Regions from separate parts of the Homo sapiens genome. Here regions 1 and 3 are each reported to be linked to region 2. The links are microRNA targets in miRTarBase. Many come from high-throughput screens and were not tested one by one. Region 2 holds a microRNA gene; each other region holds the end of a gene's coding sequence.
Evidence for each region. Region 2 holds the annotated microRNA hsa-miR-8073 (ACCUGGCAGCAGGGAGCGUCGU, at 1,837-1,858, opposite strand). A microRNA usually pairs through its seed, bases 2 to 8, with sites in the 3' UTR of a target mRNA and lowers its output. Matches are read on the target gene's strand: a 7mer-m8 pairs with bases 2 to 8, a 7mer-A1 pairs with bases 2 to 7 and ends in A, and an 8mer does both.

Region 1: miRTarBase lists RAD18 as a target of hsa-miR-8073. Seed matches in the 3' UTR shown: 7mer-m8 at 861-867 and 7mer-m8 at 37-43.
Region 3: miRTarBase lists MPI as a target of hsa-miR-8073. Seed matches in the 3' UTR shown: 7mer-A1 at 1,427-1,433.

The regions. Positions count from the first base shown.
Region 1 is chr3:8,878,697-8,881,786 of GRCh38, forward strand. It overlaps RAD18 (RAD18 E3 ubiquitin protein ligase), which reads right to left. Exons shown (of 13, transcript NM_020165.4): 13 at 1-2,763. The coding sequence ends at 2,661. Among named protein-coding and RNA genes, the nearest start is that of RAD18, 83 kb to the right of the region's middle.
Region 2 is chr13:110,337,686-110,342,825 of GRCh38, reverse strand. MIR8073 (microRNA 8073) reads right to left here and starts at 1,868; the gene lies at 1,797-1,868. All of the region lies in intron 3 of COL4A2 (collagen type IV alpha 2 chain), which reads right to left. RefSeq lists enhancers at 1-623, 4,167-4,668 and a silencer at 1,695-1,764.
Region 3 is chr15:74,897,321-74,900,410 of GRCh38, forward strand. It overlaps MPI (mannose phosphate isomerase), which reads left to right. Exons shown (of 8, transcript NM_002435.3): 8 at 192-3,090. The coding sequence ends at 410. It overlaps FAM219B (family with sequence similarity 219 member B), which reads right to left. Exons shown (of 5, transcript NM_020447.5): 5 at 2,672-3,090. Among named protein-coding and RNA genes, the nearest start is that of FAM219B, 8.0 kb to the right of the region's middle. RefSeq lists an enhancer at 1,392-1,891.

The DNA of each region.
Region 1 (3,090 bases), not on the chromosome of region 2:
GAAAAAGAAAGACGAGAGTAGAGGATGAAAGGACGGCCTGGCATACTAGGCCATCTAAAGTGCATCCAGCAGCTCACCTGCACCCCCACAAACCATAAGCATCACTGCCATTCTGAGCTGATGTTGATGGGAGATGTTATAACTTTGAGGGGAGTGAGGAGGTAGAAAGAGTTAATAACTCTGAATTACTGTAAGTTTGGTGAGAAACTGTATTTTCACTAAAAGGTGAATTTTAGAACCAGAAGTTTATCAGTTTCAATTTTGGATCTATTACTTACTCTAAGTTCCTTAATCTTTGTCAGATGGATATGAACATACATTTCTTTCAATGTATGAATATTAAACATATGCTAAGTGCTAACAGATAGTGCTCAATAAATGCTCTTTAGACCTTACTTTTCAGGTAGACTTGGGAGTTCCTTTACATTACAGGTTTCTCAGTCTTGGCACAACTGACATGTTAGACTGGATAATTCTTTACTGTGGAGTGTTGTAGTCTAAAGCGTGCCCCTTAACCCCTACCACTAAATATGTTGGAAGTCTTAACTGCCGGTATCTCAGAATGTGACAGTATTTAGAGATAGGGCCCTCTATCTAAAAAAGAGGTAACTGAAGTAAAATGAGGCCATACGCATGGGCCCTGATCCAATGACTGCTGTCCCTACAAGAAATCGGGACACCAGTCCTGCACAGTCATGTGCACACAGAGAAAAGACCATGCAAGGACACCATGAGTGGAAGCCAAGGAGAGAGGCCGAAGAAGAAACCCTACTGATCTTGGACTTCCAGCCTCCAGAATTCTGAGAATACACATTTCTGTTGTGTAAGCTTCCCCGTCTGCAGTATCTTGTGACGGCAGCCCTGGCAAACTAATCCATGAGGGTTGGGTGTTTAGCCTCATCCCTGGCCTCCACCCATTGATACTGGTAGTACCCCTCACCACCCTCCACCTCCAAAAGTGTCTCCACACATTGCCAGCTGTCTCCTGGGGGGCAAAATCTTTCTGCCCACCCCACTGGGAACCATTGTTCTAGATGATCTTTGGCCACCTTTGTATTCCCAGTGTCAGCACAGTGACAGACATAGATAACCAAATATTTGCTGAATGAACTCATGTGCCTACTTTCCCAATCTTGGGTCTCACCGCTCCCTCACAAACTCCTTTTGCTGCAATTAAAGTAATAATTACTTCCAGTTTAATTTATAGACTATATAATTTGTCATGAAACAAACAGTTTTCATTTTGACATAATTTCTGACAACTCAGTGACATAAATATATCCATGTGAGCTCCTATTTTGTTTGACATGCTCACTTACCTCACATCAGTTCTGCCGATAGATTTGGTAAGTGGTGCTTTTAGTTTCCTTAATGCACCCCTCAGGATTTCATGCAAATGAAATTATTATGACAAATTTTTCTATAGCCATTTCTAACACAGGGAACTCATAAAGAAATCAAATGTCTGCACTTCACTGTGAAAACACTAAACTCTCAGCCATAATGAGACTCCACACATTATCAGAAACCCCAAGGCATACCAAAAAGACAAGGTCAACGGAGACAGTCTTTGGAAGGGGAGGTCATAAATGTTGAATCTGGCAAATCATAAATTTCTTGTCTTAACATTGCCGCATTTACTATCATCTCATTTGAAAGCTGATGTGTTTGGGTTGGGTGATGGCAGAGGGGTGGGAGTTGGGGGATGCTGGCTCTGAAATGCCAGAGAGGCATTAAGAACTCTGGAAGCATCTGGCTACTGGTAGACATTTTACACAGATAGCAATTTCTGACCAATCCATTTCAATGATTTCTAACCCATACTCAACTATCCAGAGGATACTGTTTTAAGAACATTATTGTAAACTGATACTCTCTATTCATTTACAAAATTCATTCATTGCATACTTTTTGTTTAATAGCTTGGATTCAGTGTTACAGATTTGATTGACCCAAGTGAAAAAATACTGACACTAATCATTTTTAAGTGCTATTTCAGAAGAATATGCGCAATGTTTCTAAGTTATTGTGACTTTGTGACTGTCGTAGCTTTAAATTATAATACTAATATCCTACTCTGAGAAATGTGTAAGACACAGGTCTAACAAACAACTACATTAACCTCGGGCAACAACCATCATGGAGCTGCTGTAACACAGGCATGGTGGTGGCGTGCATCGGTACTTACACACACCAAGGATGTGAACTGACATCCCGCCTTTCCAAAAACAAACATTTAACTCAACTGTTTCTTGCAATAAAGAAGTTGAAAGAATCCTTTTGTGAGGCTGGATTCTCCATGGAAGAGAAGGAGAATGGCCTAAGGACATTCTGAAATTTAATTATCAAACCAAACCAAACCAAACCAAATCCCTGTGCCAAAGTGCCAAAGAGTCTACCTCCTCTGCAAAGCTGGTACCTGTGTGAAATGTCAGTATTTTTAGAGAGAGATGTTTTAGAGGCAGGAGGCAACTGACCAAGTAAGGATATTTTGTAACATTTTTCCCCTCTGGAAAAGCAGAAAAGAATGAATATCAGCTAACCGTAATATTTAGAATTTAGCATCTTTCCTTGGGCATTTATAAATAGAAAATCTATCTGTGGCAACCAAAAGTACGGTATTCTAATCAATGCATTTGAAAAGTCAGCAAAAGCCCACATTAATTCCTATTACGCTTGTTTCTTGGTTCAATCTCAGCACTTTCAGCGGCTCTTGTGCGGCGATTCTGTCTTGGACTTATTTCTGTGTCTTGAAGATCGTTTCTGAAGACAGAAAAAGGAAATGACATCTTGGAAAGTAATGATTATTGTACAGCAGTTTCTAGTTTACAAGTGTTTTCACACATATTATTTCATTAAAACCTCGAAATAATCCTCTATTCTGTTGATGAATTCATAATTGTTATTATTAGTATTTCCACTTTATGAATTAGTGAGTTAGCAAAGATCACAGATAGTAAATGAGCTCTGAACCCCTTTTTCTGAATTAAAATTTAGGAGTTTTATGCTTCTGTTTAGCATGTAGAGGGCTGGGAAAAAACGGCAAACAAAAAGCTGCTCCCATCCTAACAAGAAAAAGCCAGACAGTCT
Region 2 (5,140 bases):
CCTAAGCTTCCAGTCGGGTGTGCGGGTCTCCAGTGCTGCAGATTTGGTTTGCTCTGAATGGCACTGTGTTTGGGAGAAACTTGATTTGCTTTGGACCAAGGGTGCCCGGGCTCCAGGCCATGTTTCGTGGGGGCGGTCTTGTGAGGAATGCTCATCCCACATGCCCTGCAGGGTCCTCATTTAAAAAATGGGTAGAACCTACTGTTCCTGCCTCCTGGGGTTGCCGTTAGGATGAAAGGAGATTAACCCACGGGAAGAGGTGAGGATAGTGCCCGGCTCCCGGCAGGAAGTACCCAGCATCCATGGTCCATGTTCTTAACCTGCATTTTATCATCTTCCCCTAGTGGGGGAAGATGCTGGTGTATTTCCATCTCACGATACAGACCTGGGGAACAGCAGGTGTCAACACTGTTATTGTTCAAGGAGATTGCTCTTTATGGAGACACTTGCATGCTTTAGGATTTTCACTGAGTAAGCATGCATATAATGCTGACTCTATATGGCTTCCAGAATTCACCTTAAAAGGGTCTTACTTGATTTAATGTTAAGTTCTAGGTACCATCAATTTCTCTGAAGTAAGATTTCAAAAGGAAAAAATTTAGTAAGCTAATTCATCTCTAATAAGTCAAATTCTTAGCTTTCTTTATTCTATCTCTCTCTTTCTTTTAAAAAATTCAATGAGTAGCTGGCTTAGGCACAATTTAAATGGCTCATCTATGCCGAATCTTGTACCCGAGGTCAACCAATGAGCCAGGGTCACTTGGGATCCAGGCCAAGATCCCCATTCTCTGTTCGTCACTATGAGCCTAAGATAAAAATTCGTGAGTCCTGTCTAAGCAACAAGGCTTGTAGTCCTCCTATGTATCAAAAGTGCTCTTATCATATTACAAACAACTAACATGCTGAGATTATAAACATCCACAAACGCGGACTTCCTCCAGTATTCTATGTGATGTCATCTGGCCCTTCTTTCATATCCGCTTTTATTATGCTCCTGTCCTTTCAAAACAGACTGTGTGCCACAGTACAACAAAAGCCAGGAAACGTCGGCCCTCTGGCAGCGAGACAGAGCTGGAAACAAGGAGAAACTGATAAAGCAGAAACACCTCCAGATGGAGAAGTAAAGAATCAATCCTGACACAGCAACTCAGCCTGGCGTCTTTAAAGCCGGTATCCCCTTACGCACACCTAAGGAAGGCTCCTGCTCTGCTCCTCTCAAAGTGGAGTTGTTACTGAGTTGTTTTCATCAGTGCAGGTGGACATTCCCCAGAAAACGTCCTCTAGCAAACACTTCTGAGAGTCTGCTAAGTGCTAAGATCTAAAAGCCAATAGGCAGGCCCCTTGTCCTTGGGAGAAGACAAGCCAGTGGCAGAAATCAACAGCCCTGAACAGTAAATCCTTAACAACACCTAATCAGCCACAAACTATGTACACCCAACCTAAGGCTCGTGAGTGAGTCCCACAGCCACCCTTAGTCACTGCTCCATAGGGGCTGGACGGCCAGCAGCTGGGATTTCTGGCTATGGGTGGGAACATGACAGAAAGCAGGGAACACAGAGCTTTGTGCAGGGCGGTGTTGGTCTGACACTCTACTGGGGAGAAGCCCGTCGTCCCGATGACGCCACGCGCTTGGATGTGTTTTAAAATGGGGTTCTGATGCGAAGGCAGCGCTGGCCACCGACCTGCTCAGTGAACACCGGAAGTGGCGGGCGGGCTTCTTTCCCTTCTCTGTCGTGATTCAGTGCTTCCTGTCACCCCCAGCACACCCCTCCCCACCCCTGGGGAAGCCACTGCCAGGAACCAGCTCCCTGACATACCATAAACAGTCAAACACTGACGACGCTCCCTGCTGCCAGGTCACTGAAATCTTTTCCCTTAATAGACAATACTCCTCCTCCTGTTGGGAGCAATCCACAGACGCCGGAACACGAGTCAGAAAGGAACAGAGTCCTCTGAAGTCCCCAGAATCGCATGGCTGAAAACGCCCCGAGAGTACCCAAGGGTCACACTCACACATGCAGAGCCTGAAGCAAGCGAGAAGCTGGGGTTTGCTCTCGGGGAACTTAACAGCCAAGGACATAGAGTGAGCTCGAGACCCTAAAGACTCTCTGTCCCTGTGCAGTTCTTTGTGCTTCGTAATGTCTTCATGAGCTACAGGACTGCTCTCCTTTCTTCCGCAGCTGCCCCAAAAGACTGGATCTTTCTGCCCCTGGGCTAGGAGAAGTACCCTTCAGAAGATGCTGCCAAAGGAACTCCCCAAGGTGGGGAGGGGATGAACCTTAAACATTTTCTTTCTACACTTCCACTCTTCTCAAGTCTTCTCATCCTCTTCCTTTATCTCTTTTTGTTCTTTTACATCTTTAGAATGAAGTCTTTGGAAAGGTGGATTTGCTGTATTTGTAGTCAGCTTACATGAGGACCATGGCCATATCTGTGGCTAGAGTAAATTGTCCTTGGCTGGGCGCGGTGGCTCACGAGGTCAGGACGTCAACACCAGCCTGGCCAAGATGGTGAAACCGCATCTCTACTAAAAATACAAAAATTAGCCGGGTGTGGTGGCGTGCACCTATAATCTCAGCTACCAGGGAGGCTGAGGCAGGGAACTGCTTGAACCCAGGAGGCGGAGGCTGCAGTGAGCTGAGATCAGGCACTCCAACCTGGGCAACAGAACAAGACTACATCTGAAAAAAAAAATTGTCCTCTTAGACTGGACTCTGCAGGGGCACCAGGTGCCCATTGGGTGAGAGGTTCTCAGGCTCTGTGAACCAGGAGGCCCATTTATTATCCACTCTACCTGTCACCCACCCTCAAGGATTCAAGCCATTCTGGCAATGTCATAAACCGCCAGGATGAACCTTCTTCCTTCCAATCAGTGTAAACAGTGTTACTGTTCTATACTGGGTTAGTTACAGGATACATTATGAGTTTATACAGCTTCATGGAGTGCCATTGTTCCATTTCTGGAATGCTTCTGAAGTGCCACAGACTGTCATTATTTGGATGGTCCAGGTTAGCAACTCCTCGGCACCGAGCACCTCTATTTTGACTCCTTCTTTGATTTTTTCCTCCCACCAAGTTTACTGAGCATCTATTATGGTCCCAGGTATTGTGCTAAGACTGAGGATACCAGGTTCAAAGATCAGATTTCCAGAACTGGAAAAGATGAGCAAGATGATTAATTCTGGGAGATCCCAGTCTTTTATTAATGAAGACCTACTTTTGACTCTGTTTTTGTTTTTTTTCCCCTATATCTGAGGCTTGTAGAGAAAGGGGCTGTGCTGCTGGAGGCTGAGGCTGACATGCACTCCCTCTGGCTCAGTCCTCACAATTGGGTCGGAGGCAGTAAACTCGTTTGAGACTGACCGGCCAGGCTTCCAAGGTCAGGGAAGCCCCTGCTCCCACGACATTCTTCCCACGAAAACTGGGTGCTACAGAGATTTTAGGGAACTTCCCTAAGATGAAGCCCCAAATATGCAAGCACCAGTGATTCCCTCCATCCAGGAATCTCATCACGATGCTATTGTGATAACATGCTGCCCCTCCCACACCTACTGTCCATCAGAATTCAGTCCTCTTTTCTCTAAACGAAGGCTTTCTGCACAAAAGGTAAAAGAAATCCAACTGTTTGGCCCATTTAAAATCAAGTCACTGAAGTTTCTCTGAGCTCAATCACACTCTTCATCTCTGAGGTTCATCTCTGTTCTTACCACATGATAACGTGAAAAAATAGTTTCTTAAAGAGCTGGCCCCATCATCTCCAGAAATGATGTTAGGGAAGGTCCGTGGAAGGCACAGGCCTGCAGTACTGAAGGCAGAGGCATAACTGCCAACCACAAGTCACTGATTACAATCCAAGAGCACCATTTTCTTCCTTTTATGGGGCATACGACTCTTCCAAACATTGTCCTGCAGATACTTAAGAAAACAAAACAAAGCCCCAAACAAAAACCCGAGCTCCTTACTCCACAAGCGTTGTGACCTCCCGGCTCAGGGCAGCAGCCAGTCGTTCTTGGCTGTGGGAGAGAACCTGGGAGGGCGGCGAAGAGCAGCCAGACATTTTTTCAGCTTGCGTCTTCAGGGGACAGAAACAAGGCATTCTTTCCTTCTGCAAATCCAGGCTAGCAGCTCAGGAAAACAATCACTCCTTTTCCCAGCTGCAGAGATGGCTGGATTGCCTTGGCTGCCTTGCACGTTTCTCCCCTAATCTTCCAGATAAACCATCCCTGGGGTCCCAGGTTTAGCTTCTCGGCAGAGGCCCGTTGTTTTCAGTGAGTGCTAACTGGGAAGGCCCAGGCCAGCTCCCTCCTGCTCTAGTAGAATTATCTGGGTTTAACGGGCTCCCTAGAGCCTCAGTGCTCTTCAGGGGGAGCATTTTACCCCCACCCCCCCCCACACACAACATTTTCTGTGTCTTTTCTCCTAGTTTTAATAGTTGGCCACATGGCTCAGTAACTGTGCCTCTCTCCTCTCTCTCTCTTTCTCTCTCTCTCTCCCTCACTGTTTTCCATTGCATTTTTGCTCTTTTTTGCCAGCTAATGGTAGAAGCTCACCATTGGAGCCTTCATATGCAGTAACTGCTCAGCCTTAACAGACTATTCCCTTCTCTCTTAAATTGATGAAAGACACTTTTTCTCTAATTATTAGAAACAACTAGTGAAATATTTATAGAATATAATAAAATGCACATGAAACAGACTCAACAAGGGATCACGGAAAGATCTAATTTAAAAATCAGCTTAGGATCCAAGTGAGCAATACGCAGTTCCTATCACGGTGGCATAAATGGTTCCTTTGGAGAGTTTTGTGTGATTCCAGAATACTGTTAATCCACACCCCTGGCCTCATTAACCTACAAAGCAACAAGAAAAGGAACTTCAAGCCCTTGGCATCATGCTGTTTACTTTCAATGCATGTTCATTTAGTGAATATATGCTCACTGCATATATTTTAGTGAGTACATATATCTTCACAAGTATCAATGCTCTCTCTATTTTTAACAGTTAAAAAGTGCTTTTCCCAAAGCTGTCCTGAAAAATGTCTTGGGGACACAGACACACACAGCAGAACCTGCTGCAGGGACTTCCCTGGGACAGGCAGACTTCAGATTCTTAGAGCCTCCAGCACTGTGTCAGAGGGCTGC
Region 3 (3,090 bases), not on the chromosome of region 2:
ACTTGGCGGAGGGTGGCCCCAGGGCCTGCCCATTCCTTCCTGTACCAGGGACCAGGCCTCTATGCTGACTGAGCCTGGGTTGTGCGAGAAGGTGGCAGAGCTCTCCCTCGTGCCCTGGGGACTGTCCTGGGCCCATGAGCTGATGAGAGCAGAGTCTGAGCTGCACTGCCTTATCATTTCTTCCTGCCCAGGTCCCTGGCTCTGTCACTGAATACAAGGTCTTGGCACTGGACTCTGCCAGCATCCTCCTGATGGTACAGGGGACAGTAATAGCCAGCACACCCACAACCCAGACACCAATCCCTCTGCAACGTGGTGGCGTGCTCTTCATTGGGGCCAATGAGAGTGTCTCACTGAAGCTTACTGAGCCGAAGGACCTGCTGATATTCCGTGCCTGCTGTCTGCTGTAAAGGCTGCAGCCTCCCCAGCTCTCCTCTGCCAGCCACCCTAAATTCCAGCCAACCTCACCTCCTCGGGCCCAGCTCAAGCCCCCTTCCTTGCTCTGGACCCCTTAGGTATACCCTGGAAGAGCTGGGGTGGGGGAGGAGGGAGCGTGAAGGTAGTGACTCCTGAACACACCCAGGTGGAACCATCTTTGGGGAGGAGAGGCCCGTGTGAGGGGTCTGATACTCCCTTTGTCTTCCCTCTCTACTCCTCGCTACACCTGAGCCAGGCTCTTGCCAACTCTGTTCCAGCCTATGGCTTTAGGCTAGCTGTTAAATATGTGACCCAGCATTAGCTCAGCATCTGTCAGAGCAAGAGACCAGGTAATTTCTAAGAACAGGGTTCTAGCGATGGGACTGCCCATTTCCTCAGCTGCAGAGGAGGAAAGGGAAAGGGTAGGCCTGTAGACTAACGCTGTTTACACCCTTGTTCTGTCAAAGCAATTAAAGATCACTTGTGTTGAGGCTGTGGGGTAATGAGCACTCAGCCTTTGGGGTACCTGTTCCTAAAGTGGGCCAAAAGAGCCCTCCCTACATGATGCCCCAGTTTTTGCTTTATTCCTATTTCATACAGCTTCTCGGGGGAGTGAGCAGGCTACACTCCAGAACACCGGTATGGGAAGGAGTGGGAGAGGAAGCCAGCTTTGGCCTCACAGGCACAGCTTGCAAGCAGGCCTTGGGTCTGCCCAGAGGCACAGCTTGCAAGCAGCCCTACAGAGAAGGTGACTCAAAGGATACACCAGTCACCAGTGCAAGACTCTTCGCTCCTGTTTTTCTCTTTTTTTTTTTTTTGAGACGGAGTCTCGGTCTGTAGCCCAGGCTGGAGTGCAGTGGCACGATCTCGGCTCATTGCAAGCTCCGCCTCCCGGGTTCACGCCACTCTTCTGCCTCAGCCTCCCAAGTAGCTGGGACCACAGGCGCCCACCACCACGCCCAGCCAATTTTTTTGGTATTTTTAGTAGAGATGGGGTTTCACTGTGTTAGCCAGGATGGTCTCGATCTTCTGACCTCGTGATCCGCCCACCTCAGCCTCCCAAAGTGCTGGGATTACAGGCGTGAGCCACCACGCCTGGCCCGGCTCCTGTTTTTCAACTGGCCCTAGAGGAGGGGTCCGCAAACCAGGCTGGCAGGCCAGTTCTGGCCATACCTGTTCATTTCCATACTGTCTGGCTGCTTTCAAGCCACAGTGGCAAAGTTGAAGAGTTGCACTAGACTGTACGGCCTGCAAAACTGAAACCATTGACTGTCAACCACTTCTCTACAACATACTCAACTGTTGCAGATTACAGGGACTCAGGAACCGAATTAGACAATTTTCATGGCGAGGAGAAGCCCAGTTAGCTTTCCTAAACGGGCAGGAAGTGTGAAGGAGGGAATCTCCTGATGCCCTGCTCCAGGGGTGGCACACACCTGCAAGAGGCTGTCGGCTGTCTGCTGCTGCTGAGGTTTCTGACCTGCAATCGTAGATCCTGTCACCACAGACTAATCACTTAGTCCACTGGCTCCTTCCTGTGGGATAAAGGTTTAAATTCATGCAAAAGAATCTTTCTGGGCTTCTGCCCACACTAGAGTCCCTATACAATGGAGTTCCAGGAAACCACCTTCAAAAATCTCCTGGGTTTTCTTGCCTCCAAATTTTCTTCAGCTAAAAAACAATAAAGATGAGCTGGAAAGAAAAGGTCTGCTAAAGGGAACCCATTCTACAGAAGTGACTTGCAAGAGCCTATTTCACTCATGCCGTCCAGTGAAACAGGCCCGAAAGTGATGCCCAGTGGGAACAGCAGAAAGGGGAGGGAGTTTCCAGAAGGAATTGCTGTAGTCAGCTGTTAAGCTATTTCTTCATTTCAGGATATCCAGGATATTCTTAACTTTTATTTTTTTGAGACGGAGTCTCGCACTGTCTCCCGGGCTGGAGTGCAGTGGCGCGATAGCTCACTGCAACCTCCGCCCACTGGGTTCAAGCGATTCTTCTGCCTCAGCTCCTGAGTAGCTGGGACTACAGGCGCCTGCCACCACACCCAGCTAAGTTTTTGTATTTTTAGTAGAGACGGGGTTTCAGTAGAGACGGGGTGACAGGATCTACAATTCCAGGTAAGGTCAGGTTGGTCTCAAACTCCTGACCTTGTGATTTGCTTGCCTCAGCCTCTGAAAGTGCTGGGATTACAAGCATGAGCCATTGTGCCTGGCCAAGGCCTTTAAAATCCACTGCAACACAGACACAGCTCAACTAGTGTGATTGCATTTATTCTTATAAATGTACAGAGCTGTAGAAGTGCAAGCCAAGAGTTCTATAGAGTAGTACATAAACACCATATGGTACCACTCCTGCTGGGAGGTAAGCCTGGATACACCCCTCTCCTCAGGAAACTGTCACCTGCAGAACACACAGCACTCAGAATTAAGGCAGTTTGGCCCTGGGCACATTGGTGGTATTTTGGTATGTGGCCACTGGCCCTAAACAACTGACCATTTCTACCCTGCCTCACTGCACTGTCCCACCAGGTCCCTCCAGCTTTTTCTACAAGGTAACACCCTCCTACATGGGGTCAGCCAGCTCAGAAACCTCTTCTTCAGGGACAGTTGCAGCTGAATATGCCAGAGCTGATTATTACAACAACGATGCAGAGGGCCTTGGTTTTGGGGTCCT